7 separate regions of the Homo sapiens genome follow, and regions 1, 2, 3, 4, 5 and 6 are each reported to be linked to region 7. Evidence: microRNA targets listed by miRTarBase, many of them from high-throughput screens and not tested one by one. Region 7 holds a microRNA gene; each other region holds the end of a gene's coding sequence.

Evidence for each region. The annotated mature microRNA hsa-miR-15a-5p reads UAGCAGCACAUAAUGGUUUGUG and lies in region 7 at 1,403-1,424, opposite strand. An mRNA with a match to its seed (bases 2 to 7 or 8) in the 3' UTR can be bound and repressed. Matches are read on the target gene's strand: a 7mer-m8 pairs with bases 2 to 8, a 7mer-A1 pairs with bases 2 to 7 and ends in A, and an 8mer does both.
Region 1: the mRNA of U2SURP is a reported target of hsa-miR-15a-5p. The part of its 3' UTR that is shown has no 7-base or 8-base seed match.
Region 2: miRTarBase lists ENTPD6 as a target of hsa-miR-15a-5p. Seed matches in the 3' UTR shown: 7mer-m8 at 1,043-1,049 and 7mer-m8 at 1,429-1,435.
Region 3: the mRNA of BHLHE40 is a reported target of hsa-miR-15a-5p. Seed matches in the 3' UTR shown: 7mer-m8 at 248-254.
Region 4: the mRNA of TSPYL2 is a reported target of hsa-miR-15a-5p. Seed matches in the 3' UTR shown: 8mer at 459-466.
Region 5: the mRNA of SLC25A29 is a reported target of hsa-miR-15a-5p. The part of its 3' UTR that is shown has no 7-base or 8-base seed match.
Region 6: miRTarBase lists CCNYL1 as a target of hsa-miR-15a-5p. Seed matches in the 3' UTR shown: 7mer-A1 at 1,093-1,099.

The regions. Positions count from the first base shown.
Region 1 is chr3:143,055,965-143,060,030 of GRCh38, forward strand. U2SURP (U2 snRNP associated SURP domain containing) reads left to right here. Exons shown (of 28, transcript NM_001080415.2): 28 at 348-4,066. The coding sequence ends at 486. Among named protein-coding and RNA genes, the nearest start is that of U2SURP, 56 kb to the left of the region's middle.
Region 2 is chr20:25,224,894-25,228,959 of GRCh38, forward strand. It overlaps ENTPD6 (ectonucleoside triphosphate diphosphohydrolase 6), which reads left to right. Exons shown (of 15, transcript NM_001247.5): 14 at 312-424; 15 at 606-3,182. The coding sequence ends at 704. Among named protein-coding and RNA genes, the nearest start is that of PYGB, 21 kb to the right of the region's middle.
Region 3 is chr3:4,983,462-4,987,525 of GRCh38, forward strand. BHLHE40 (basic helix-loop-helix family member e40) reads left to right here. Exons shown (of 5, transcript NM_003670.3): 5 at 1-1,862. The coding sequence ends at 231. Among named protein-coding and RNA genes, the nearest start is that of BHLHE40-AS1, 5.5 kb to the left of the region's middle. RefSeq lists enhancers at 1-408, 269-318, 499-678, 1,109-1,168, 1,179-1,238 and 2 more.
Region 4 is chrX:53,087,715-53,091,780 of GRCh38, forward strand. TSPYL2 (TSPY like 2) reads left to right here. Exons shown (of 7, transcript NM_022117.4): 7 at 62-826. The coding sequence ends at 225. Among named protein-coding and RNA genes, the nearest start is that of KANTR, 4.4 kb to the right of the region's middle.
Region 5 is chr14:100,289,004-100,293,069 of GRCh38, forward strand. It overlaps SLC25A29 (solute carrier family 25 member 29), which reads right to left. Exons shown (of 4, transcript NM_001039355.3): 4 at 2,113-4,029. The coding sequence ends at 3,280. Among named protein-coding and RNA genes, the nearest start is that of MIR6764, 14 kb to the left of the region's middle.
Region 6 is chr2:207,753,139-207,757,204 of GRCh38, forward strand. CCNYL1 (cyclin Y like 1) reads left to right here. Exons shown (of 10, transcript NM_001330218.2): 10 at 450-3,036. The coding sequence ends at 560. It overlaps MIR4775 (microRNA 4775), which reads left to right and starts at 1,669; the gene lies at 1,669-1,743.
Region 7 is chr13:50,047,765-50,051,830 of GRCh38, forward strand. MIR15A (microRNA 15a) reads right to left here and starts at 1,437; the gene lies at 1,355-1,437. DLEU2 (deleted in lymphocytic leukemia 2) reads right to left here. Exons shown (of 14, transcript NR_152566.1): 6 at 1,820-1,898. MIR16-1 (microRNA 16-1) reads right to left here and starts at 1,297; the gene lies at 1,209-1,297.

The DNA of each region.
Region 1 (4,066 bases), not on the chromosome of region 7:
TTAAAGGTTCAAATTTGGGGGTTATCAGTCACTTATGGAGCTTGTTAAAAATGCAAATTCTTAGTTCCATCCTCCAGAGATTTTGATTCAGTAGAGCAGTGATAAGGCACAGAAATCTGTCTTTATAAACAAGCGCTCTACTGATGATCATTGATGCAGTGCATAGTAAGTACAAAATAATCTGTGTGTGTGTGTGTACAATAGAGTTTAAATTTTAGAAGTTCATAGTCTTATTGCAGTGATTTTTCACTGTGCCCTGTTAAAGATCATTTTCGATCGTTTAAGGATAAACAGTTTTGATCACATGAGTACTTTATCAATTGGGATTTTTTTGTTTGTTTCCTTAGATCACCATCTGGTTCAAGGACACCTAAAAGGTCTAGGCGATCACGGTCTAGATCTCCTAAAAAATCAGGAAAGAAGTCCAGATCCCAGTCCAGATCTCCACACAGGTCTCATAAAAAGTCAAAGAAAAACAAACACTGACGTAAATTTTTAAGATGCTGTCACTTATTGGAAATGCGATTTGTTTTGTGCCTGAACGGTCTGTTTTTTAAAAAAACAAAAAATCAAATGAAAGAGCATTCCTGGGGTTTTTTGTTTGTTTGTGTATGCATGTGTAAACTCATGAGCAACTGCATCTGTAGATCTGTCATTGTTTTATATTGTGTAAATTACTTTCATTGTGGCTATTTCTCAAGATGAAATTTTTATTGTTCTAATGGATTTCATCAGAAATGTGTATAATGGATCTGCTGACAGTAGTAGTATTTTGTTTTAGGATGTTGTGACTTAGCAAAAATAATACAGATGTCTTCCCCCCTTTTGTAGCTTTGACAATTTGAATTAGATTTCAAATAAAATCTGAACAGAAAACTATAATGTTGTTTTTTTGCCCCACCGGTGATATTAAGTCCCTTAAAGTCCTACTGAGTTTCACACTACTGTTGTGCTTCTTATACCTGATGCACTTTATAAGCCCCAGTGTTCAAGTAGCTTAAGTTTTATATTTACTAAGATGACTATCCAAATTAAGGGACCTGAGACTCCTATTTGGTGGTTTGCTAACCATTTGCTTTTGATAAGTTTCTCTTGGGTAATACTAATACCCAGATATCAAAGACTAGGTAGATATGGCATGGCGTTTTGTTAGTGGAATGCCTGGCTAAAACATTTTTTTCACAGAAGCAATATGATTTCCATACATCCAACCCATGTTCTGAGCAACTACTTACTTTTAGGGGGAAATTAAATATCTTTTCATTTCCTCTTCTATTATGAAAGAAGTTTATTTGTAAAACAAATTTTCTAACAAGGTTTGGCCATAGAATTCTCTTGTATGATCGTTGACCTTTTATAATCTTCTGTAGGCTATCTTTCAAACACTGGCATCAGAATATTTTTTATAAGTTTGTGTTTAAACAGCTTAGTTGGTCCCCCCCCACTCCCAAGAGACTTGGGTTTAGTTATAGCTTTAAGTAAAATTTAAAAATAAAATGTTTTTCAGGAAACTTCGTATCTAATGGTTTGTAAATTCAAGGTGCAAAAAGTTGATTTAAACCATTTGCAGAGTTGAACTCTATTATGAAAATAAATTTGCTACGGTATGAGGAAGAAATAAAACTTGTGTAATGTTGGTCATAATACTGCTATAAATATAATAAAGGGTTATGTAGAATTGAACTGACACTATTATTTGTGAATCTTGATTTCAGTTTTTTATGTAGGCACTTCATACACTGGTTTGATGGGTTTTTTTTTTCCTCCCTAAAAGAGAAAGTAGAAAACTATTCTAACAATGGATTATTTTGATTTAGCTTGCTTTTTAAAAAAATCTTTTCAACTTGTTTTACTTAATCTTGCCTAGTCACAAAATAAGATGTGCACCCATGGTTTGGAGAGTTCCTATATTAGCTGAGCAGTGAGATACACTATTTCCAAACGGTGCACACCTACAGTAGCTTTGGAAATGAGCCAATCACTGTTTTACTTAATGGTTCTTATCAGCATGCAAATATTGCTTGAAAGTTATTTCCTTATTCACTGTTTTGTTAGTCCATTTTGTTAGGAAACATTAATTCCTAAAAATTTGTTCAGAATAATTAAAAGTGAACATTTGGTGCTGATACTCAAAAACCTACAAATGTAGCCATTTAAAAAGTAACATGTTTTTCTCCCCTGCTCATTGCCTGGGAGAATGGAATTTTATATAACTACCTTTCTTTGCAAAAATAACGGTCGTGTCGAGTTGGTGGTGATTTTGGCATTCCATCTTGCACTGGTTTCTAGTATAGGCTTAGAAATAATTGGTCAGGTAATAATCTTTCCAGTCAAGTTGCAAGGGATGCTTATTTCTCTTCAAAAAAAGACATCCTGCGGGATTGAGTAGAAAATTTTAGGTCAGTTTTGGGTGCTTATTTGTAATATTTTTCCTACTACATTGGAGTTTAGCAGTTCTTTTTTTCTGGATCCAGATACAAGTGTCATGGTTTATCTTACAGTGGGTGAAACTGACTTTCTTTTGGTTGGGTGGGTGAGGATTTCTTAGGCCTGATAGAATATATATTCTGTGAAGTTTGTTAATGTACATATTAGATTGTATTGGATTTTTTTTTCTTGAATTGCAAATGGTATTATTAGATAGGTTATTTCCAGTTTTACTTCATGACAAATTACCTAGAGTAAACCTACTTAATACTCCCATGGATTCTATGAAAGTTTAATGGGATCAGAAATTGGTGACTTATAAGGGGGAAGATATTCTACCATATTTTTATAATAGCTTATTATTCATGTTTCTTGTCTGAAGGACACTCAAGTTACAGAGCAAAATTTCTATAGGTTGACTAGAATGTTCATAAGCATGGTCTTCCAGTTGCAGGAAAGATCATGTTCTATCTGTGGACACTTACTGTCCTCTACCACAGCTACGTGCCAGAGTTGTTTTCCACAGTTCTTATAAAGGGCATGACTTAGGCTCTTTACCCTCCAACTTAATGTTTATACACAGGGATTGTTTACTAGGTTAATGACATTTAACTCCCCTCTCTTCTGTAGGTGAGAGAAAATAAGTAAGTCTTGATCTGTTTCTTACCAAAGAGAGACAGACCTATGATGGAAAATGATCACGTCTCTGAATTTTTTCTTTAACGTTATAGTTCCTTATTACAGATAGTAAGCATATGGGAATTTCTGAGCTATAACATGTTGAGAAGTTAGAAATTAAAACTAACACAACAAAAGGCGCTGAATCAAAAGATCTTTGCTTTTATTTGGCTCAGAATGTTTTTGGCTTTTCTGCTAAAGATGGCAGAAATTACTCTACACAGACCTGATTTTTCTTTATTGCAGACCATTCTTGTGGGCTTACCCTGAGACTTTTATCCCAATTAGTGAATCTTGGAGGGAATACTTGCTTATTTATGACTTAGGTATTTCCCCCCAAACTTTAATATTCTTGAGCACTTGAAAATACTTTTGAGAAATTTTAACTGTGATTAAATTTAGGTTTATTAGAAATATTCTGTACACATTTGCCTCCATGGTGGCGTAAGTTCTGAAAAATTATATGACCGTGACAATAGTTTATCATCATCATTATTGTTATTCAAAATAAGGGTAAATAAATCTCTGTATTGCCAAAGTGACTTAAACTGTTCTGATGACCACACAGTGTGATTTCTTTAGCAGAGAAAGTTGGTTTTAAAAATAAATAGTACCACTTTTCTAAGACTGTACAGTTTACAAATAAGGTTTTTTTCTTTGTTGTTTTCCTCTTCTATTAAGTTTTAGTGAAAAGCCTAATTACAGAAAATTGTGCAGATACTAGTGAAGATACTAGTATAAGTTTAAAGGAACACGTGACTGTAAAATCTCACATTTACAAAGTGCTTGATCTCTTCATATTTCACACGCATGTTTTAGAATAGATTTTAGGGAGTGTTTAATTCATTATCCTTTTGACTTAAAATTTTTGTTACCAACTTCCTAGGACTTAGATAATATATAAATAAGTACAAATCCCAGGGGAAGTGTTGTGATGCTAGACTAAAAGGTGGGAATGTGC
Region 2 (4,066 bases), not on the chromosome of region 7:
ATGCAGCTTGACACCTGGGAGAGGTGTCCAGGGTCTTAGATGTAGAAATGTGGCTTGGGAGACATTGGCCCATGACCCTAACACCAGGCGTGCAAATCCCCTTGGAGCCCAGACCCAGTGGCAGCCGGGGTTGCCGCCCACCTGCCTGTGCTGTGCACTGGGTGCCTTCTGCGCTCAGCTGCGGCCTTGTCTGTGAATCCGGAGTGCGGAGCCAGCGGGTGCCTGTAGTGGGTGGAATTGGGGTCTGCACTTGCCCCTCCGCCCCCAGGTGGGAGTCACCTGGAGCGTGAAGGGACGTGTCTCATCCCCAGTGTGTCGGACCCTGGAGACACAGCCGCAGAGCAGCCCCTTCTCATGCATGGACCTCACCTACGTCAGCCTGCTACTCCAGGAGTTCGGCTTTCCCAGGAGCAAAGTGCTGAAGGTAAGGGTGCCCTCAGGTCACGCCCCAGCCCCTTTATGGAGTGAGGGGCCTAGAACCACTTCTCCAGTTGCTGGGGTCATGTCCCCCAGCCCATCCCTGGCTTCCAAGGAGCCACAGCCTCCTGATGCACAAGGCTTTCCTGTCTGTGTGATGGTCCCCTCTCCCTCTCTGTCTTTTCAAGCTCACTCGGAAAATTGACAATGTTGAGACCAGCTGGGCTCTGGGGGCCATTTTTCATTACATCGACTCCCTGAACAGACAGAAGAGTCCAGCCTCATAGTGGCCGAGCCATCCCTGTCCCCGTCAGCAGTGTCTGTGTGTCTGCATAAACCCTCCTGTCCTGGACGTGACTTCATCCTGAGGAGCCACAGCACAGGCCGTGCTGGCACTTTCTGCACACTGGCTCTGGGACTTGCAGAAGGCCTGGTGCTGCCCTGGCATCAGCCTCTTCCAGTCACATCTGGCCAGAGGGCTGTCTGGACCTGGGCCCTGCTCAATGCCACCTGTCTGCCTGGGCTCCAAGTGGGCAGGACCAGGACAGAACCACAGGCACACACTGAGGGGGCAGTGTGGCTCCCTGCCTGTCCCATCCCCATGCCCCGTCCGCGGGGCTGTGGCTGCTGCTGTGCATGTCCCTGCGATGGGAGTCTTGTCTCCCAGCCTGTCAGTTTCCTCCCCAGGGCAGAGCTCCCCTTCCTGCAAGAGTCTGGGAGGCGGTGCAGGCTGTCCTGGCTGCTCTGGGGAAGCCGAGGGACAGCCATAACACCCCCGGGACAGTAGGTCTGGGCGGCACCACTGGGAACTCTGGACTTGAGTGTGTTTGCCTCTTCCTTGGGTATGAATGTGTGAGTTCACCCAGAGGCCTGCTCTCCTCACACATTGTGTGGTTTGGGGTTAATGATGGAGGGAGACACCTCCTCATAGACGGCAGGTGCCCACCTTTCAGGGAGTCTCCCAGCATGGGCGGATGCCGGGCATGAGCTGCTGTAAACTATTTGTGGCTGTGCTGCTTGAGTGACGTCTCTGTCGTGTGGGTGCCAAGTGCTTGTGTAGAAACTGTGTTCTGAGCCCCCTTTTCTGGACACCAACTGTGTCCTGTGAATGTATCGCTACTGTGAGCTGTTCCCGCCTAGCCAGGGCCATGTCTTAGGTGCAGCTGTGCCACGGGTCAGCTGAGCCACAGTCCCAGAACCAAGCTCTCGGTGTCTCGGGCCACCATCCGCCCACCTCGGGCTGACCCCACCTCCTCCATGGACAGTGTGAGCCCCGGGCCGTGCATCCTGCTCAGTGTGGCGTCAGTGTCGGGGCTGAGCCCCTTGAGCTGCTTCAGTGAATGTACAGTGCCCGGCACGAGCTGAACCTCATGTGTTCCACTCCCAATAAAAGGTTGACAGGGGCTTCTCCTTCTCTGGGATTCCTCTCGTTGAGCGACAGTAGCATTTGCCCACCTGGCACCTGAGATCCCTGTTTACTAAACCTTAGAAAAGCTGCCAAAGGGGGTGGCGTATTTCCAGTCCTGTCGACATCCCTCTCGAGGACACAGCAGTGGAGGGCCCCTGGGGGCTGGGGCTGGTGAAGGGTCTGGCTGGTGGCCCCGGCCCTCCCAGCGTCTGTTGAGCACAGCTCCTCCTGTGCCAGGCCAGCAGCCCACAGCACGGCCAGGTGAGGCCTGGGCACATAACCTCGAGTGAGCTGCAAGTCCCCATGTCATTCTGTTCAGCAAGGATCTGGTTTTGGTCTGGAAGCGTCCCAAAGGTGTCGCATGCCAGGGAAACTGCAGACCAGCCCACATCCCGAGTGCTTGTGCCTGAAGCCCCCCCCAACCAACTGTCACAGGAGGACAGGATCTGGCCCTAGGGCCTCCCAGGGCTGCAGCGAATGCTGATGGAGCCACGTGGTGGAGGCCTGCACAGAGCAGGAAAGGACAAAAGACAAAAAGAGGAACAGTTTCCTCCCTCCCGCCTGGGCTGGGTCCCCACCAGCGCCTTTACTTCCATAATATCCACCAGCTTAAATATTTAAAGAACTCCGGAGGCTGAGAATCAGACGCATGAAGGTAAAGCCAAAATCAATTTGGTCCATTTAAAGAAGGTCGGTGACCTCATGCCTGAAAAAGGCAAACAACTGGAAGTTTTCCAAAAGTGCACCAAATAAGTCATGGAATATTTCTGGGCCCGGCAAAGTATGCAAGTCATTTCTCTCTGAGTGTCTTTTGTGATAATGAAGTAGGCTCTCATTTGTCAAAAATAGCTACACGTGCACATCGTAAAAGAAGCAAACTAGGGTTGCTTGAAAATTCTGTTCCCTCAGGATGTGTGCATTGACAAGCTCAGACAGGTCTCACACGCCCCACATGCCACCCCAGCCCGCGTACCCCACATCACTTAGCACCCATTGCTGCCCACTGAGCTGCCTCAGTCCTGCAGTCCCCGTGTTTGGATGGCAGGATCCCAGGGCAGTGAGTTTCAGGGCATAAGCAGACGTTGCCACGTTGCCTTCAATCCTACTGGACAAGCATCGGTGCTGGCCTCCCCCATGTCCTAACAGCTACAGCCAGTTTAATCTTTGCCATTCTGGCAGATTTAAAAAAATGATAACTGGTAGTTTTAATATGCATGGATCTAATTCATCGGGTATATCTAAGTTGTATTTCCGTGAAACATCTGTTCATATCCCTTGCCGATTTTCTATAAGATTGTCATCATTTTTTTGTTAATTGTAGATCTTTATTTATTAAGGAAATTATCCCATTATGATAGAACGTGTCCAAAAATTTATCTTTTTGTGACTTCTAGGTTTCATGTCATAATTAGGAAGGCTTCTCCACAGAGATAGTTTTAAAAGTTAACCAAAAGGTATTTTTATATTTTAGTTTCTTAACTTTTGTTAAGAAACTAAACGTGCCTGGCCTTGTTTTTTAATTAATTAATTACTTTATTTATTTATTTTTGAGATAGAATCTCCCTTTGTCACCCAGGCTGGAGTGCAGTGGTGCAATCTGGGCTCACTGCAGCCTCCACCTCCCAGGTTCAAGCAGTTGTCCTGCATCATCCTCCTGAGTAGCTGGGATTACAGGCACCCGCTACTGTGCCCGGCTGATTTTTGTATCTTTAGTAGAGATGGGGTTTTGCCATCTTGGCCAGGCTGGTTTTGAACTCCTGACCAGGTGATCTGCCCATCTGGGCCTCCCAAAGTGCTAGGATTACAGGTATGAGCCACCATGCCCTACCTTAACATTTTTAAATACGTTCAGGCACAACAAATCATTGTTGCAGGGTGAATTTTATTTTTAGAACCATTTCAGAGTCATCAGAAGGCAAATGTGGCCAGGCATGGTGGCTCACGCCTGTAATCCCAACACTTTGGAGACCGAGGCAAGTGGATCACTTGAGGTCAGGAGTACGAGACCACCCTGGCCAACATGGCGAAACCCCGTCTCTAATAAACATACCAAAAAAAGAAAGAAAAAAAAAGCCGGGCATAGTGGTAGGCTTCTATAATCCCAGCTACTAGGGAGGCTGAGGTACGAGAGTTGCTTGAACCCAGGAGGCAGAGGTTGCAGTGAGCCGAGATCGCGCCACTGCACTCCAGCCTGGGCAACAGTGAGACTCCATCTCATTAAAAAAAAAAAAGGTAAATGTG
Region 3 (4,064 bases), not on the chromosome of region 7:
CCCATGCTGGAGAAGTGCTGGTATCCCACCTCAGTGCCAGTGCTATACCCAGGCCTCAACGCCTCTGCCGCAGCCCTCTCTAGCTTCATGAACCCAGACAAGATCTCGGCTCCCTTGCTCATGCCCCAGAGACTCCCTTCTCCCTTGCCAGCTCATCCGTCCGTCGACTCTTCTGTCTTGCTCCAAGCTCTGAAGCCAATCCCCCCTTTAAACTTAGAAACCAAAGACTAAACTCTCTAGGGGATCCTGCTGCTTTGCTTTCCTTCCTCGCTACTTCCTAAAAAGCAACAAAAAAGTTTTTGTGAATGCTGCAAGATTGTTGCATTGTGTATACTGAGATAATCTGAGGCATGGAGAGCAGATTCAGGGTGTGTGTGTGTGTGTGTGTGTGTGTATGTGCGTGTGCGTGCACATGTGTGCCTGCGTGTTGGTATAGGACTTTAAAGCTCCTTTTGGCATAGGGAAGTCACGAAGGATTGCTTGACATCAGGAGACTTGGGGGGGATTGTAGCAGACGTCTGGGCTTTTCCCCACCCAGAGAATAGCCCCCTTCGATACACATCAGCTGGATTTTCAAAAGCTTCAAAGTCTTGGTCTGTGAGTCACTCTTCAGTTTGGGAGCTGGGTCTGTGGCTTTGATCAGAAGGTACTTTCAAAAGAGGGCTTTCCAGGGCTCAGCTCCCAACCAGCTGTTAGGACCCCACCCTTTTGCCTTTATTGTCGACGTGACTCACCAGACGTCGGGGAGAGAGAGCAGTCAGACCGAGCTTTCTGCTAACATGGGGAGGTAGCAGGCACTGGCATAGCACGGTAGTGGTTTGGGGAGGTTTCCGCAGGTCTGCTCCCCACCCCTGCCTCGGAAGAATAAAGAGAATGTAGTTCCCTACTCAGGCTTTCGTAGTGATTAGCTTACTAAGGAACTGAAAATGGGCCCCTTGTACAAGCTGAGCTGCCCCGGAGGGAGGGAGGAGTTCCCTGGGCTTCTGGCACCTGTTTCTAGGCCTAACCATTAGTACTTACTGTGCAGGGAACCAAACCAAGGTCTGAGAAATGCGGACACCCCGAGCGAGCACCCCAAAGTGCACAAAGCTGAGTAAAAAGCTGCCCCCTTCAAACAGAACTAGACTCAGTTTTCAATTCCATCCTAAAACTCCTTTTAACCAAGCTTAGCTTCTCAAAGGCCTAACCAAGCCTTGGCACCGCCAGATCCTTTCTGTAGGCTAATTCCTCTTGCCCAACGGCATATGGAGTGTCCTTATTGCTAAAAAGGATTCCGTCTCCTTCAAAGAAGTTTTATTTTTGGTCCAGAGTACTTGTTTTCCCGATGTGTCCAGCCAGCTCCGCAGCAGCTTTTCAAAATGCACTATGCCTGATTGCTGATCGTGTTTTAACTTTTTCTTTTCCTGTTTTTATTTTGGTATTAAGTCGTTGCCTTTATTTGTAAAGCTGTTATAAATATATATTATATAAATATATTAAAAAGGAAAATGTTTCAGATGTTTATTTGTATAATTACTTGATTCACACAGTGAGAAAAAATGAATGTATTCCTGTTTTTGAAGAGAAGAATAATTTTTTTTTTCTCTAGGGAGAGGTACAGTGTTTATATTTTGGAGCCTTCCTGAAGGTGTAAAATTGTAAATATTTTTATCTATGAGTAAATGTTAAGTAGTTGTTTTAAAATACTTAATAAAATAATTCTTTTCCTGTGGAAGAGAAAGATGGTCTCCTGAGTTTTTTAAAATAGCTCACTTGGTGTGATATGGCTGACTCCCATGTCCTTCTTTCTTGGCTGAAGCAAACCAGTTAATCTCAGTGTAATTTCATTCAGCTTTTCATGTGCTTTGTATTCAATCAGAATAAGCTTAGTCAACCTGGCAGGTAAATATTGGTTCAATTTTTGTTTAACCCTTGCCAGGGGTTCATGATCATCCTCTACCTCTTTCCAGAGTTAAGTAAAAAGCATATTTTCCCCTGCCTGCTTTCATCGTGGTCCTTGGAACTTGACAGAAAACCAAGGTATGACACCGTGGGCAGCAGTGTCTGGGGAGCCTGCTGGAGGGAGAGGCACATTGAGAAAAGATTTACTGGATTATTATGCAATACTAATTGATGCTAGGATAGCACCTCTTTGCCAAAGCAGTCTAGCTTTTTCAAATCTAGCAAGGTCTAATGGATTTGCCATATCCTGTCTTATTCCTGCTGGAGGCAACATTCCATAATTATTTTCTACATCCTTCCTGGACTTCCTCTCCGGTATGTTTGTGCGTGAATGCATATTGGGTGTTCCTTCGACAAGTGCTCTTATTTAAAAAAAAAAAAAAAAAATTCCATGGGAAAGGTGGGAAATGACCCTGTCGTGTATTTTTGCCTCTCTCCTTTGCCTTGATTTGCAACATTCCTGTGGGATACTCCCTGTCAGAGGTGTCCTGATGTTTCCTGATGGCCAGCGCCTGACTCAACACGCTCCGGCTCCCAAAGCATCCCAGTCTGCCAGGACTCCCTGGTTGTCTGGAGTACAGCAGGGAAGCTGCCCCTAGGGATTTCTTAGCCAGGCAGAGGCTCCACCTGACCATGAAGACTGTTTGCTTCACATGTCACCTTCCCTGTCTCCTGATGGGCCAGCAGGTGAAAGTGAGCATTGTCTGCTTGTGCTGGATGCATATGGAATGCACGTAACTGTCCCCAGGCCACAGGCTGTTGTGCAAGGAGCCGGGACCAGGAGGTGGAAGCCTGGCATCAATAGCTGGTGGTCTATCACCTCCCTCTCCACGCCTGCTTTTGACTAGATAAAATAAGAATTCCGAGCCCTTCTCACAAGTCCCAGAGCAGGCAGATGGCAAATTCTGTAAGCCACTCTTTCTCCCAGCCCAACGCCTGGGCTTCCAGGTCTCATGCCTGTGAAACACCTCAATTGCTCCATGAGTTGCCAGACCTCTCTAGCTAGACTTTTTTGGAAAAAACCCAACAAATCAAACTTACCCTGGTGATATAGCCGGGGGTTGAAAAATCAAGACCAAACTCTTTTTGCATAACCCTCTCTTTTTCCCAGGCCACTGCAGGAGGAGTAGCTTTGGGGAAAGGAGGAAGTGGTTGGAGCAACCTGAACTAAAAAAAAAGATTTGAGGGTTCCACACACAGTCAACCCAGAATCCCGCTATGGGAACCTGCCCCTGTCAAACAGCGCCTCAAGTTGCAGCTGTCCCTCCACTTCATTTTTTGCTTCCAGCTCGCCCTTAACCTCTCTTCTAGCCCAGTTCTAGCGGCATCCAAATGCGCTCAGAGGGAGGTGCGGGGGAGGGGCGCGCACCCCAGCCTAATGCCCACTGCGGACAAAGAGGACTTCTGTTTAAAAAGCGGGGTGTGTGAGTGTCAGGGGGCGAAGCGCTGGCTCCGGGGCCAAGGAGAGGTGGCAGGAGGCAGGGGAGCGGAGGCTGGGCATCTGGCCGCCTTCAGACAGGGCGTGATCCGCCGGGCCTGCCGGGATGGTCTCACCCAGCGCTGACCTGCCCCGCCTGTTGACACAACGTCACGTTTCCGACTGCAGCCCTTTCATGTGCGGCCCGCGGCTAAAAGCGGCTGCCGGTTCCTGGAAGCAGACGTGCCTGGCACCGCGTCAGCAGAAACCTGATCCCCGGGGAAGCTCGGCAAGGCCTTGGGATCGCTCGGCCCCCAGAACTAGGGCCTGGCAGCGGGCACGGGACGCCCCCCCTCCCTCGCGCCCAGCAGGAGGGAATTCGAGCGCTCCCCGTCGGCGGTGGGGAGGGAGGACTGGGTGGGGTAGGGAGCTGGATTTAGGCAGAGCACGGGGACCAGGGCTTAATTGACTAGAAGCTAGAAGCTTCCCACGGGTCATCGCTCACTAATGCACGTCAAACAACCTAGAAGTATCATTATGGGTACTATTACAATTCACATTTTGTAGATAAATAAAAGCAGGCTCAGAGAGGAGAGGTAACTAGCCCGAGGTCACACAGCTTCTGAGGGGGCTAAACCTTTTGTAGGATGGTGGATCTGTTGGTTTGTGGGTCCCTTAATTGGATCCAAGGAGAAGGCTTTCACAG
Region 4 (4,066 bases), not on the chromosome of region 7:
ACCTATCTGCTCATCTAACTGCCTTCCTCCATTTCCCCTTCCTTGCTTCTCCCCTATGCAGGCATCCAGCAAGATGAGGACATCTATGAGGAAGGAAACTATGAGGAGGAAGGAAGTGAAGATGTCTGGGAAGAAGGGGAAGATTCGGACGACTCTGACCTAGAGGATGTGCTTCAGGTCCCAAACGGTTGGGCCAATCCGGGGAAGAGGGGGAAAACCGGATAAGGGTTTTCCCCTTTTGGGGATCACCTCTCTGTATCCCCCACCCACTATCCCATTTGCCCTCCTCCTCAGCTAGGGCCACGCGGCCCCACATTGCACTTCTGGGGGGTGACCGACTTCGTACACGGGTTTAAAGTTTATTTTTATGGTTTAGTCATTGCAGAGTTCTTATTTTGGGGGGAGGGAAAGGGGGCTAGTCCCCTTCTTTTGGCCCTCCGCCCCCGCAGGCTTCTGTGTGCTGCTAACTGTATTTATTGTGATGCCTTGGTCAGGGCCCCTCTACCCACTTCTCCCAGTCAGTTGTGGCCCCAGCCCCTCTCCCTGTGCTGTGTGGAGTGGACACCCTGACCCCCGAAGCGGGGAGGGCCGCTGTGGCCTTCGTCACAGCCGCGCAGTGCCCATGGAGGCGCTGCTGCCACCTTCCTCTCCCAAGTTCTTTCTCCATCCCTCTCCTCTTCCCGCCGCGCCGCTAGCCCGCCTCGGTGTCTATGCAAGGCCGCTTCGCCATTGCGGTATTCTTTGCGGTATTCTTGTCCCCGTCCCCCAGAAGGCTCGCCTCTCCCCGTGGACCCTGTTAATCCCAATAAAATTCTGAGCAAGTTCAGAGTGCCGCTTCGAGTCTTTTGTTTAGCCTGGTGCCCCGGCCCCAGCGGTCAGTTTCCCCCAGGCCCACACGTAGCCGCCTGGCCTACGCAGTATCCTGCAACATGCTAGTTGCGGGGGTTTGGCGGGTGGGGGGCGAGCTCCGCCAGGCCGCAGAGGCGTTGCGTCAGACCAATGCGGATCATCCTGGCCAATGGCAGTGCGAGGCTGAGGAAGCCCCTCCTTCTCCTGGCGCCCGCAGCGGACCCAGCCAGGTAGCGAAGGGCTTCCCACGCCTTCCCCTCTGGCGCATGCGTGTAGAGACATCCTGCGTCCTAGAACATCCATTTATCAGTGATTCATCTTTTAATTTATAGTGCGTCAAACCTTTCCTCGGGCCTAGAGTGAGCGGGGCGTGGGGAGCCAAAGGAATTCATTTTCCTCATTCGCATTTAGTAAAAATAAAACACGACTTCGGTCCGGATATCACAACCCAATTATGCAGGAGCGCTCTCTTGCCTTTGGGAAGGGGTGCAGAGTCCCTAGAGCTGGGCTTGGGGGAGAAGGCAGAAAAGATAGCTCAAGCAGAGAAGTATCCGTAGAGATAAAGGAAAAACAAAGGGGAATTAACTATGTAACTGTGCGAAGGGGTGGAAACGTAGGGAGTTGGACATCTGAAAAACAGGCTTTATCCGGGAGACCTTGGAAAGGCTGAGTTATATTAAATTTAGATACATAAATTTTATCTCGGTGGGCGCCAGGAATATTTCCCAGATTTGTTCTGGATCACAATAACTTTTATTCAGACATCCGAGTCGGTCTTTTATAACATATCTCCCGAACTTTCCATCCAACGCCTTTATTTTGCTGGAAGGCTTCAGATATGGTTAGATTTGCGTTTTAGAGAATGCCCTCTGCTGGCTGCCAGGAGAACTGACTGGAAGGAAGGACAGCAGTAAGGAAATAGACGCTAGACCTCAGGTGGGATTGGCAAGATGGGGGCGGATATGAGAGGTTTTTAAAATAAACTTAATTTCAGAACAGTTTTAAATTTACAGAATTATTGTGAAGATAACAGAGAAGTCCCGTATGTCCCACAGCCAGTTTTCCTTATTAACAGTTTACATTTCTGTGATACATTCGTCACAATTAATGAACCAATATCAGTACATTATTATTAACTAAGGTCCATACTTTATTCCAGTTTCCTTAGTTTTAACTTAATGTCCTTTTTCTGTTCCAGGATTCCATCCAGAATAGCACACTACATTTAGTCATCTTGTGTCCTTAAGCTCCTCTTGGCTATGACACTCTCTCAGGCTTTCCTTGTTTTTGATGACCTGGAGTCATTTGAGGAGTACTGGTCAGATATTTTATAGAATGTCCCTTAATCAGGATTTGTCTGATGTTTTCTCTCATGATTAAACTGAGGATATGAGTTTGGGGAAGGAAGACCACAGAAGACAAATGTCATTCTCACTAGATCATATCAAGGGCATGTACTATCAATGTGATTTATCACTGTTGATGTTAACTTTGATCACCTGGCTGAGGTAGTGTCTGTCAGGTTTCTCCACTGTAAAGCTACTCCTCTTTCTCTTTTTCCATGCTGTACTCTTTGGAAGGAAGCCAAGTAAGCGCAGCCCGTGCTTAGGGAATGAGGAGTTATGCTCCATTTCCTTGAGAGGGAAGTATGTACATAAATTAATTGGAATTCTTCTGCAAGAGCAATTTGTCTATTCTATGAGAGCTTTTAAGATGTTGGACTCCACAGGCTTTAGATATGGAAGGAGAGGGATTCAGAGGAGTCAAGATGACTGCCAGGTTGGTGTGAGACCTTTGGCAAGGCCCCTTCCCTCTCTGGGCCTCCTCTGTGAGATGGTTGGAATACCAGATCCTTGACATGTCTCTCCAATGATTCTGATAAATGTTTTGGGGGGGACAGGATGGAGGCTTTGATGTGCTGTCAGAGGTGGGCAGGGAGGACTGAGGCCCAGAAAGGGGAATGTCTTGCCCAAAGTAACACAATACCTCGAGGCCAGAGCTGAGAGTGCAGGATCCCAGAGAAAAGAGACATCTACATGCAATATCTGGAGCCAACCCCAATGAGTATGCGGTGAAGAGGAGGGGAGGGGAAAGCAGCAGGGGCAAAGGCAATGGAGTAGGCCGGAGTAGGCCAGAAAGAGGTCAGCCTGCCAAAGGATCCCAGCCAATCAGAGCCAGAGTAGCCAGTCTGGTTACTCTTGCCTCAGTCTGCCCTACCTCACAACATGACTCTCCTTGTCCTCTCTAGAGGGCCTCAGTTTTCCTATCTATAAACTGAGGCTTATCGTGCAGGGGGATCAGTCCAGGAGAAGCAACCTGCCTAAGGTCTCAAGACAGAGTCTAGCCTTGAAGCAGGTCTCTGAAGTCTGGCCTTCACTGTGCTCTTCCCTGATTCCTCTCTGTCCCCCCAATCAAATCCCCAGCCCCTCATCCTGGCATTTGAGACTCTTCTTCACCCACCCTGTTAGAGAGGGCCTCTGGTCTTCATCTTCAGTGATGCTCTTAAGAGTCAATCATAGTATTCTAGTATAGTTGGCCAGGGTGCTCATGTCCTCGGCTGAGCCATGTGAGGACAGGATGTTCTTTGCCCAGAGTAACATCTTGTTCCCTGTGCCCTCACTCTTCAGTCTGGACCTCCGAAAGAGAGGGCTGTTCTAGGTCTTTAAGGTCACATCTAGCTCCAAGATACTGTCTTCGCTGAAGGCCAGAGAAGACAGGCCCCATTGGCTGAGACCTTAAACAGAAACCAGGAGGATGAAGAGTCATGGGCCCAATGTGCCCTAGGGCCTGTTCCCATGTTGAAACTACTTGTCTTCATATGCTTCCTAGCTTGCCCTCGCTCCTTTGCAGCAGAGGGCCCTGCTCCTGGGTGGGAGGTTCCTGGGATTTCCTGGGACCAGACCTTTAAAGTGCCACCTACTTCTGTGAGTAGAATCGGATTGGCAGGGACAAAACTAGATTCAAGAATGTCCCTCCTTAGGTGACCCAAAGGGCTGGCACTGGCTCCCCCAGTTGGGGGTGTGCAGGATGGTTGGGAAGGAATCCTATTATTCATTCAGTAAACACTTATGAGTACTTACTGTGTGCCTGAAGTACTGAACTGGGTGATAGGGATACAGCAGGGAAACAAGATAGAGCAAGTCTTTTTTTTTTTTTCTTTGTTGCCCAGCCTGGAGTGCAGTGGCACAATCTCCGCTCACTGCAAGCTCCGCCTGCC
Region 5 (4,066 bases), not on the chromosome of region 7:
AGACATGGAGACACAGACACACAGGAGAAGGCGGCAAGAGATGGTGGCAGCGATCGGAGCGATGCTCTTGTGAGCCTAGGGAGCCAAGGATTGCCAGCTGCCCCCAGAAGCTTGGAAGAAGCAGGGAACAGTTCGTCCCTCAGAGCCCCCAGAAGGAACCAACCCTGCCTGCAGCTGGAGTGTGGCCTTCAGAACTCTCAGAGGACACTTGGCTATTGTTTAGCCACAGTGTGTGGTGTTTTGTTACGGCAGCCCTAGGAGAAGGATGCAATCTCCAGGATCACTGTCAAGGGAAGACAGCAAAGAACAGAACAGTCAGGACCTCGGCCACACTTTGTAGGGGGTGCAGATGTCCCTCCGCTGCTCCATGCTGGCACTTGCCCAAGATGTGTTGGATGCCCTCTGGGAACTGGAGACTGTCCTCGACTCAGGAGGAGAGGCTGGCCCCTGGGAGGTGGAAGGAGGTTTTCCTCTTCACTGCACAAGCCTGGATTCTGGTAGTATTTTTAGTTTTTAGCACTTCATATATCACTTATTCCAAATCAATTGAAATCAGAGGCCGGGCGCAGTGGCTCACACCTGTAATCCCAGCACTTTGGGAGGCTGAGGCGGGTGGATCACTTGAGGTCAGGAGTTTGAGACCAGCCTGGTCAAGATGGTGAAACCCTGTCTCTAATAAAAATAGAAACATTTGCCAGGTGTGGTGGTGCACGCCTGTAATCCCAGTTACTTGGAGGCTGAGGCAGAAGAATCACTTGAACCCGGGAGGTAGAGGTTGCAGTGAGCTGAAAGAGCACCACTGCACTCCAGCCTGGGCAACAGAGCAAGACTCAAAAAAAAAAAAAAAAAAAAGTTCAAATCAGGGAGAAAAGAAAATGTAAAATAAATTCATTAAAAACAACAACTCTACTCCCTGCCTGGCAGATGTGTTGGTCATGTGAGGCCGCTGAACTGGGAAGTGGGAGGGAGCTAGAAGCCCCCCGCCCCTTCACCTTGCTCCTTGCCGCACCACTCCTCACTTCTGAAGGGCTGGCCTGTCTGTGTGCTGTCCCCAGAGGGCAGGCAGCCGCAGGGTTCGTGGAGAAGCCCCAGGGTGAGCAGGGCTCAAATTAGTTCCTGACAAGGGTCACGTTGGGGCCTTTCTAGAGAGTGCAGATGTGTGGAGAGATCCAGGGTGATGGGGACCACAGCCACAGGCCACACTCAAGCTGCCCTGAGAGATTCAGCCACCCAGGCCTAGAGAGGCAAAGGGGCTGCCAAAGCTGGACATGGAGGAGCTAGGGAAGGGGCCCCTCTCTGTGCCCATGGCCAGGGTGTTTCCCCCATCCCTGGGAGCTTCCCCTGGTTTATTTCAGAGTAAAGAGAAGCGAGAGAGGCCAGGAGACCCCAGGGGTCAACAGCCAGCTTCCTCCCCGCCTCCTGCCTCCCTGTAAAGCCCAACTTCCCAGGCTAGCACTAGGGTTAAACAGGCACAGGAACTGGGGCCCCTCCCCGACTCCCCCTTGTCAGTGGGCAGAGCTTCTTGGCTCAGCACTTGGGAGGGAAAGCCTCCAGGGCTGGTGGCTGCAGAGGCTCAGGATGCCAAGGGCTGACTCCAGGAGGCTGAACAGAACTGCAGGTGAGGTGGGCAGTGAGACCCCCACACCACACCTTTGGCAAAGCTCCAGGATGCCCTCTTCCAGGAAGCCCTCTCTGACCTCCTAGTTTGGGTTAAGTACAGTTGTGCCCAAGTTGCCCGGGTGGCTGAAATGGTCAGCTCCACTCAGACCTCCCCTCTTCCAGGAAGCTGTTTTTGGGACACACCCTGCCCCTGCTGCCCCGCCCGCCAGTGCCCCTCACCACAGGCCTCTCTCTCTCATTGCTGGGATGATGATAGCAGAGGGGCATCTGCTGAATGGCCAGGCTGCACCAGCGTGTTCACGCCCTTCATTAGCTTGCCTTGCAGATGAGAAAACAGGCTCTCAGATGTATCCGCAACTGCCCAGGTCACATGGCCAAGGCTGCTGTCAGGGTCCAAGGGCACACGCACCCCTGAGCTGGCCCCTTCGACTCCAGGGCAAGGGTGCTGAATGAAGCCCTTTCCTCCACCATATGCAAAGGCAGCCTCGCCACTTAAAAAACAAAGAACACTTTATTCCCTTGACAGTTTCTGTACAGCGACACCAGGCTGTGCAAAGCCCAGTGTCGTCTTCACTGAGCACATTCCCCAGGACGCCTGGTGCAGCCCTCCTCTGCCCCAGGCCCCAACTAGCCACCCCTGTGCCCACTAGCAGGCCCTGTGCCTTCACAGGGATGAAGCCCTGGCACTGAGAATGCCTGGGAGGCACCGTTTGCTGGGGAGCAGAGGGACTGACCTTTGGCTTCTTTGTGGCTGGAGGTGTTCCAGGCCTGGTGAGGGGGTCCCATACTGTTCTCTGCTGAGCCCTCTGCACACTTTGGGGGATCCTGGCTGGCGGTGGTAGGTGGGCCGGAGACTCAGTTGTCCGTCAGCTGGCCATGTCCCCATTTTATGGACAGGCAGCCTGAGGCCCAGAGGCGGAAGGATTTCTCCTTGCCACAGCTGCATCACACTTGAACTGTCCAGACCTCCACCGCTGGCCTGTTTGCTCCCCACCCTAGTCCCGCAGGCTGATATGGTGCCTCCAGCAGACTCCATGGCTTCCCGGAGGGTGCAGGGTCCCCAGTTCACCCTCCAGCAGGAGTGGCAGCAGCTGGGGTACCCCTAGCAGTGGCATGTGGAGAAGCTGGGGTATGCAGAGGATCCAGTTCTGTGACACCAGGAGGCACACCAAGTTTTCCTCTGTCCCTAACACAGACCAGAGGGGTGGCCCACCACCCCCCCGGGTGGAGGATGTGTGGAGTTAGAGGTCCCTGGGTGGCCCCTTGGTTGGCCATCAGAGACCCCCGGGAGCCAGCCTGCAGGGCAGGAGCACAATGACGTGGCCAGGATCCCAGAAAGGGGCTGGAGTGTCTGCCTCAGTTTCCAGGATAACGGTGCAATGGCCTCAGCCAGGCCAGGTGCTGGCTGCTGCTGGGAATAATCTCTGAGCTTCGTGACTCTACAGTGTGGGCATGAGGGTCCTTATTTCATAGATGAGAACACTGAGGCAAGTGCAGTTCTCGGCCAAAACTACCCAGCTGATCAGCAAAATTCAGCCCACGTCTGATAGACTCCACAGCTCGCAGCATCCCAGCAGGAAGCAGGGCAATCGACTCAGGGGCCAATTTATGTCCCAGGTTTCTGAGAAGGAGCCCTGGGGAAGGAGGGCGGGGTGAGCGTCACAGGCTGGAGGGCTGCGCCAGGGCAGGCCCCGCAGGGGCGGCGGGCACAGCCTCGCCCTCGGGCCCGGCCTCCTCGCCGCGCGCGTAGGTGAGCACCACCGTGACGGTGGCGAAGGTGGCAGCGTTGACGGGGAAGGCGCGCAGCAGCGTGGACGCCAGCCCCCGTGTGAAGACGCGCCAGCCCTCGGCGCGGTAGCTCTGGTGCACGCAGTCCAGGATGCCGCGGTAGCGCGGGGCGCCCCGCAGTCCGTCCGCCTGCAGCCGCGACTTGACCACGTCCACAGGATAGGTAGAGAGCCAGGACACGATGCCTGACGTACCGCCCGCCAACAGCAGCTTGGGCACCAGCAGGCGGTCGCCCGGCTCGCAGCCCAGCGCCCGCGTGAGAGCGTCATAGGTGAGGAAGTAGACGCCGAAGCTGGGCGTCTCACGCAGCAACGTGGACACCATGCCCCGGTTGACGCCACGCAGACCCTCGTGCCCGTAGATCTGCGCGAGGCAGTCCAGCGAGCCCTTGTAGGTGCGCGCTGGGCCCGCGTCCTGCAGCTGCAGCCGCGTCTTGGCCAGCTCCATGGGGCAGCAGATGACGCACTGGATGGCGCCCGCCGCCGCACCTGCCAGGAACTGGTTGAGGGGCGAGTCGTGGCCCAGGGCCCGGAGGGTGTTGCCCTGCACCCCGAACACCAGCGCGTTGATGAAGGTGAGCCCCATGAGCGGCGAGCCCAGGCCCTTGTACAGGCCCAGCACCTGCGGGGACAGAGACGCCATCAGAGCCGGCAACGCG
Region 6 (4,066 bases), not on the chromosome of region 7:
GTCCAGCACACACCTGCCTCATTAAAATGTGCTTTGAGTATATAATAGCTAATAAGGATTGGGTAGAATTTGAATAGCTGAATAAACATTTTTTTGCACAAGTGTACGTTTGTTATATTTAAGGAATAAGTTAACAGATAACAGATGCTATTGCTGTTAGGAGCCCTATCACAATACCTTTGATATCTTTGGGAATCCAGTTTTTTAATAATATAATAAATTCCCCTTTGTTCTCTGGGAATCTAACCATAGCCCTTAAAGGATATTACCTTGGTGAACTGTCAGGAAGTAGTGTCCCCACAACCTGGCAGTGTAAAACTCAGCCAAAGTAGCTGTAACTGTGAACTATCTAAAGGAGTCCACATGTGTGGCTTTCACAATGGTGCTCTTTCAAAGGCGGGAACCCTTTTTAAAATTGTACCTGTTTTCTATTTGATTGACTTTCCTAGGCTATTTCTAGATTGTGTGAAGACAAAGACTTGTGTAGAGCCGCTATGAGAAGGTCTTTCAGTGCTGATAACTTCATTGGTATTCAGCGCTCTAAAGCCATCCTCTCTTAAAAGGAGAAATGAGGGGTTATAACGTCATGGGACCTTCATCTACAAAGACTGGAGAAATACCACCTTTCCTGCTCAAAAACCAGCAAAATTAGTGTTTTCATCAAAAGGAAAGATCTCAAATTCAAGAGACTCATGGACAACAAGGATTATACTCCACAGGAAAGAATGGGACCTTGTCAATGCAACAAAACACTCTTCTGTCCTTTTTAATGTAAACAGAGTTACAAAAACCACTCCAAAGTGAAGGCTCCCATCCTACACACAGATATTTGCTTACTGTGTGGGCCGATAGCTGTGAACTATGTAAGGTTTTTTAAACAATAGTTTAAATTTTTAGACTTTAAAGACACTAACCATATAACTTTTATGTTTCTTCCAGTTTCTCTCCCTCCCCCCGCATTTTGCTGCATATGCCTTTAAAATCAATGCAGTATTACCATTAAAACATGGGACTCTAACTAAAGCCACTTAGGAGCAGACAGCAGCGTTGTTAGGTACTGAAGGGTTCTTCCTCCCTACTGTTACCATTGAAGCTGCTAGTCATTGGCAATCATTTTAAACCAAAAAGCTGCTGGATAACATTTGTCATTCATATTCTTTGCAAGCATTACTTTAGCATTTTAGCATGTTTGGGGTCATAAACAGAGGAAGTATCAGTTATTGATATCTACTTCTATTGGAGTCCATGTTGCATTTCTTGTGAACTATAAATGGTGCTTCTCATTTTCTGATAATTTTTCTCTTGCTAAATAAATGTATTAAAAGATATTTTCATAATGCCAACCAACATGGTGGTTCAGTGACGATGAGAAAAAGTGAAGCAGTTTTAAGCTTGAATATAGTTTGGGCCCTCCAAGGCACTGCAGCATGAGTATAAATGCTATAAACCTTTAAAAAACATGATTTGAAAGTTTTTTGTTTTGTTTTGTTTGTTTTTAAAGAGATGGGGGTCTTACTGCGTTGTCCAGGCTGGAGTGCAGTGGCTTTTCACAGGTGCAATCATTGTGCACTCACTGCAGCCTAGAACTTCCTGGTCTCAAGCCATCCTCTAGCCTCAGCCACACAAGTAGCTGGGACTACAAGTGCAACTGGCACCTGTCTCCTGAATATTAAGCTTTTAATTTTTTGTTTCGGTCACTCTTGATAGCAGACATTGACTGAAACAAAAAATTAAAAGCTTTATATTCAAAATTTGCAAAATGAAGCTGGGTGTGGTGGTGCACGCCTATAGTCCCAGCTACTTGGGAGGCTGAGGCTGGAGGATTGCTTGAGGTCAAGTATTGGAGGCTGCAGTGTACCATGATGGTGCCTATAGGAATAGCTACTACACTCCAACCTGGACAACGTTATCAAGACCCCATCTCTTAGAAAAATGCAAAATTAAATGCAAAAGAAATGGGCTGGGCATAGTGATTCATGCCTGTAATCTCAGTACCCTGGGAGGCTGAGGTGGAAGGATTGCTTGAGTGCAGGAGTTCAAGACCAGTCTAGGCAACATAGTGAGACCCTGCCTGTAAAAAAAAATAATAAAAATAGTTGGATATGGTGGCATGTGTCTGTAGTCCCAGCCACTCTGGAGGCTAAGGTGGGAGGATCAGTAGAGCCCAGGAGGTCAAGGCTGCAGTGGGCCATGATCATGTCACTGCTCTCCAACCTGGGCGACATCCAGACCCTGTCTCAAAGAAAAAAGCAGAAGAAAAATGTTCAGACAAGGTTTTGTAAAGGTTTGTAGCATTTATATTTCTACAAGTATCAAAGCTTAAAATTACACTGAACTTTTGGAATACCTTGTATCTCCATAAAATGCCCTCTTTTTAAAAGTAGTTACCCGCAGAGCTGTGCTCTATATGCTTTGATTACCGCAGTTTCTTTAAAGGAAGATTTTGAAGAGCAGTGTTAATTAACATGTAATAAAAGGAATTGGACCCTAATTATAGAAGGTGATATGAACAGCTGTTTTATCATCCTACATGCTACCAAGCTGTAGGTGTCCCATTAAGTCCTGCTATTTAAGAAATACTTACATAACCCTTAGGAACTCTTCAGGCTTTAAAAGGCAAGGAGCAAATAATTTTAGGAGACCGATAATGTCACCTAAATTTGAAATACTAAGAAGAGGTTAGTGTTCTCAACTATGTGAAATCTGTTTCTCCTACTTTCTCAAATCTAATCCTAGGAATCTTGCTTATAAACAAAGCATTTCTGGGACAGGAGTACTTCCTCTATTATAGCAATGCTTCACATCATATTGTGCTGCAGTTTCCATCATTTTTAAAGGACAGAGACATAAATGATAAATAATGGTATACAAATATTACAATCTACCACCTCAAAAAAACAAATATTGTTTATGGAATTCAGAGTTTGGAGATTCAAGTATTGATTGCAGTTTTATTTTGAAAAGAATGCTACAATTTATGTGGTTTTTATTTCTCATGTTTATATTAAAAGCTAATAAACTCTATTTTAATTAAAATATGGCTAGTGTGTTTGTAACACTTCTATCCACATAGTGTTACATCTCTGCCCAGCCTAGTTTTAAGTCAATCCTGATATGTCTTAAAGCATTTTCAAACCAACCATAAGTTGATTTGATCCATGCCTCTAGTTAAGATGTAGTGATCCATTTCTTTTGCATATGCTCTTTTCAACCTGAAGATAATTTATTACACTTAAAATCACTGACCACAATACTTAATGGCATAGTGCATTAGATGGCATCTTGAATAGTTGGTTATCGTGTCTGAGAGGGAAAAGCACATTAGAATATAAAATTAAGCAAAATGTATCAAAGAGAAAGGAATTAAAGGAATAGCGTAGAATTAGAACAAGAGGTATTTGAGGTTTTCAGACAAACAGGAAAGAGAATGGAAAGACAGGAACTAGAATTTGTGTTGCTGTTGAGAGGATGTCTTAAGCCACATAATTTGACTTTAATGTGCTATTTTCAAGCTTACATTTCAGTTAAAAATATACCAAGTCACTATTAGGTTTCTTTAGAACTAAGAGTCTAGCCACTCAGCTTTAGCAATTCTCAATAAATCCTGATAGCATTGCAATATTTTCATCCACTTTAATTCTTCATTACCTAAAGTCAAATATTTAAGTAAATGATCACAGTCAGGCACGGTGGCTCACGCCCGTAATCCCAGCACTTTGGGAGCCCAAGGTGGGTCGATCACTTGAGGCCAAGAGTTTGAGACCATCCTGGCCAACATGGTGAAACCTCGTCTTTATTGAAATTACAAAAAAAGACGGTGCAGTGGCTCACGCCTGTAATCACAACACATGAGGTCGGGAGTCTGGCCAACATGGTAAACCTCGTCTCTATTTAAAAAAAAAAAAAAAAAAAAAGCCAGGTGTGATGATGCACGCCTGTAATCCCAGCTACTCGGGAGGCTGAGGCAGGCGAATCCCTTAACTCTGGAGGCGGAAGTTGCAGTGAGCCAAGATGACGTCACTGCACTCCAGCCTGGGCGACACTGCAACTCCGGCTCAAAAGAAAT
Region 7 (4,066 bases):
GGATTACAGGCTTGAGCCACTGTGCCCAGCTCTACTTTTCTTTTCTTTTTTTTTTTTTGTTGAGACAGAGTCTCCCTCTGTCACCCAGGCTGGAGTGCAGTGGTGCGATCTCAGCTCACTGGAAGCTCCGCCTCCCAGGTTCATGCCATTCTCCTGCCTCAGCCTCCCGAGTAGCTGGGACTACAGGCGCCCGCCACCACGCCTGGCTATTTTTTTTGTATTTTTAATAGAGATGGGGTTTCACCGTGTTAGCCAGGATGGTCTTGATCTCCTGACCTGGTGATCCGCCTGCCTCGGCTTCCCAAAGTGCGTGAGCCACCGCACCTGGCTGTCTACTTTTATTTTTAATAAAAAATTTTAAAAATACAAAAAAGTAAAAAAAAAAATTAAATTATGTTGACATTTTATATCAATAAAACTACAATGATAATTTGGTCTTACTCTGAGTTAAATCTTGAATACAAAAAAGTAAACAAAGTAAACAAGACCTTATTTTTGACTTATCAAACAAAAATCTTTGGCTAAGGATTTAAGAAAACATTTTAATAAAAACATGAAAAAAATAGTATACCATTATAAAGTTAGAAGACATAAGACTAAGACCCCAATCTGTGATGTGTAGCAAATTATTTGAGTTTTGTGTTTCCTTAGCTATCCAATGAGTGGGTTGGTCACTTGTAAGGGTTTTTCTACCTTTAAAGTTATGGTTAAGTGTGACGTTTTGACAACCAGAATTTTAGGTATTTAATTCACATATTTTGATGGCTTTTCCCCTTCAGATATAAAGAAATATTCAGAAACAGTACTAAATATTGTCTTCTAAGCTCTGTTCAAAATGCTTAATATATTTTATATTTATCTGTAAAGACATATTTTAAAAGTAATTTCAAAACAAAGGGAAAACTAGAATTTGTTTTATCCCAAGTAAAAATCTGAATTAATGTCTATGTTGAATATAAATGTGCATTAAAATAAATTCCTCTAATGCTGCATAAGCTTTTTAAAAAAACTTGATGGCATTCAATACAATTATTAAATTGCAATTACAGTATTTTAAGAGATGATACATCTGAAAAATTAGTATTAATTCATTTTTACAGAATCATACTAAAAATAACAAGATTATCAATAATACTGAAAAGACTATCAATAAAACTGAAAACACATTAGTAACATTAATATACATTAAAACACAACTGTAGAGTATGGTCAACCTTACTTCAGCAGCACAGTTAATACTGGAGATAATTTTAGAATCTTAACGCCAATATTTACGTGCTGCTAAGGCACTGCTGACATTGCTATCATAAGAGCTATGAATAAAAAGAAATATATTTTCTTCAGAAGATCAGATCCTTGTATTTTTGAGGCAGCACAATATGGCCTGCACCTTTTCAAAATCCACAAACCATTATGTGCTGCTACTTTACTCCAAGGTTTTATTTTTTTTAAACACACATTCGCGCCTAAAGAATATAAAAAATATTTTCTTTCAGGAAAAAAAGAATGCATGTAAAAAAATCTATGTTTAAACATTATAACATTGATGTAATATGCATAATTATTTTTAAGGAGATTTTAAGTAGAATAATAAAACATTTCTACATCAAAAACTTAACTGAAGTCCATTCTGTGCCCAGCACAGTGCTATAGGTTAGGAAACACAAAGAATAAAATGAGGAAAAGAAAAGCATTTATTTGCTATGCCAACTTAACAGGGCAATACAACTAAATGCTTAAACTTTTGAATATATTCAATATATGAAGTTATTTTTCCTTGTATAAACAAACAAGTAAATTTATAAAATTTGATCTTTACCTTGGTAAAAGGAGAATTTACAAACATTTTGTTCCTTGCAGTACACCTTTCAAAAGACATCTTCATCAAATAGGTAAGACTTCACATCAAGGGAAAAACATGAAATGACATACAAGAGCTCAGTTTCAATAAACTTAAGCTAGCAAAATGCAAATATACTTTTAAAGAAAAATACTTTAATTCTAAATGTTAATTTTATTAAATATCTAATTAAGACATTTTAATTCCAAATATAGTTAAGAAAAAAAGCTCTAAACAAACTAATTCTCCCTTAAATAATTTGTTATTAATAATCTAAATATTTTACTTTCAACATTGATCTTCATACTAGAAGTTCTCTTAGAGTTGGATATCATTTGATACAGTAATTCTAAAATATGAATCCTTAAGTAATTCTAAAATATGAATCCTTGGGATGATGAGTTAATTTGGTACCCTGAGATGAGAAATAAAACAAATCCCATAGCTCTTAATCTTCCTATTCCCTGTTTCTGGCCCATTTACCAGGTAAGGAAGAAACTCCTAGTTTCCACTTTCTCAGATGTAGAAATGAAATTCCTTTTCTCTAAAAGATATCAGAAAATTGCCACCACTCTAGTGGTGCCACCATTCAAGCCTGGACAATCTTTTTTGCCCCATGTTCTCATCATTAAAATGACTATGCTAAAGTTACATCTATTACAGAATAGTAAGGTGATGTACACAACCAAAGCACTAAAATTTGCTCTTCCATTCTAATATCTAATTACTTATACAAAGCACAGGGTCACATTCCATATGAAATTTTTCTGAGTATTTTTCCCATTAATAAAAAATATATGTAGCTAATCTCCTATCTAAGCAACCTGGATTTCACATATAACTCTGCTCCTTATTGTCTCAAGTTTCTGCACAACGTTTTTTAAATTTTTATTTTTTCTTTTTTTAAGAGAGTAGTTTCCGTATCTTTTAGAGAAAAAGAAATTCATTTCTACATCTGAGTAAGTGGAAACTTTAGGAGTATACTTCCTTACCTGGTAAATGGACCGGAAATAGGTAGGGAATAGGAAGATCAAGAGCTACAGGATTTGTTTTACTTCTCATCTCAGGGTACTCTGTTGCCCAGGATGGGGTACAGTGCCATGATCGTAGCTCACTGCAGCCTTGACCTCCTGGGCTTAAGTGATCAGTCCACCTTAGCCTCCCAAGTAGCTGGGACTACAAGTGCACACACCACCATGCACAGCTCTTTACATTTTTATTTTATTGTAGAGACAAGGTCTTGCTATGTTGCCTAGGATGTCTTGAACTCCTGGCCTCAAGCAATCCTCCTGCCTTGGCCTCCCAAAGTCCTAAAATTACAGGCAAGAGCCACCATGCCTGACCTGCACTTTTTTTTTATTTTTTGAGACGGACAGGGTTTCACCATGTTAGTCAGGCTGGTCTTGAACTCCTGACCTCAGGTGATCCACCTGCCTTGGCCTCCCAAAGTGCTGAGATTACAGGGGTGAGCCACTGCGCCCATCCTGACCTGCACAATTTTTAACATGTAACCAAGATAAATCCGTTTGCATTCACTTGAGAAATATATAACATATATTTGTATTTATCAATTATATTAAGGAATTGTCCTTCAGGGTCCCCCTCATCACATACATTTTCCAGATAAAAACTTAAACATAATTTTTTTCAAATATAAAAGGTGCCTGTAAATTATTTAACAAATATTTTATTGAATATCTACTATGTGCCAGGCACTGTCCCAGTTATTACACTAGTTGGTAGTATACCAGATAGACAGTCTCTTTTCAGAAAGAGTAAAGTCATTTTAAGACAACTTAAAGTGAAGGATCTTAAGCTGAAGAATTTAGTGCCAGCAAAGGATGGTTTGAGTTTCAGAAAGACGTTTGGTTTTAAAAATGTCAAGATAACAGGAGAAGCGGCTTTGAGGCAGCAGATGAGTTCCCAGACACCATTAAGAAAATCGCTGGGGAGAAAGGACAGGTTTTTTTTTTTTTTTTTTTTGAGATGGAGTCTTGCTCTGTCGCCCAGGCTGGAGTGCAGTGGTGCCATCTAGGCTCACTGCAAGCTCCGCCTCCTGGGTTCATGCCATTCTCCTGTCTTAGCCTCCCGAGAAGCTGAGACTACAGGCGCCTGCCACCACGCCTGGCGAATTTTTTGTATTTTTAGTAGAGACGGGGTTTCACCATGTTAGCCAGGATGGTCTCAATCTCCTGACCTCGTGATCCGCCTGCCTCGGCCTCCCAA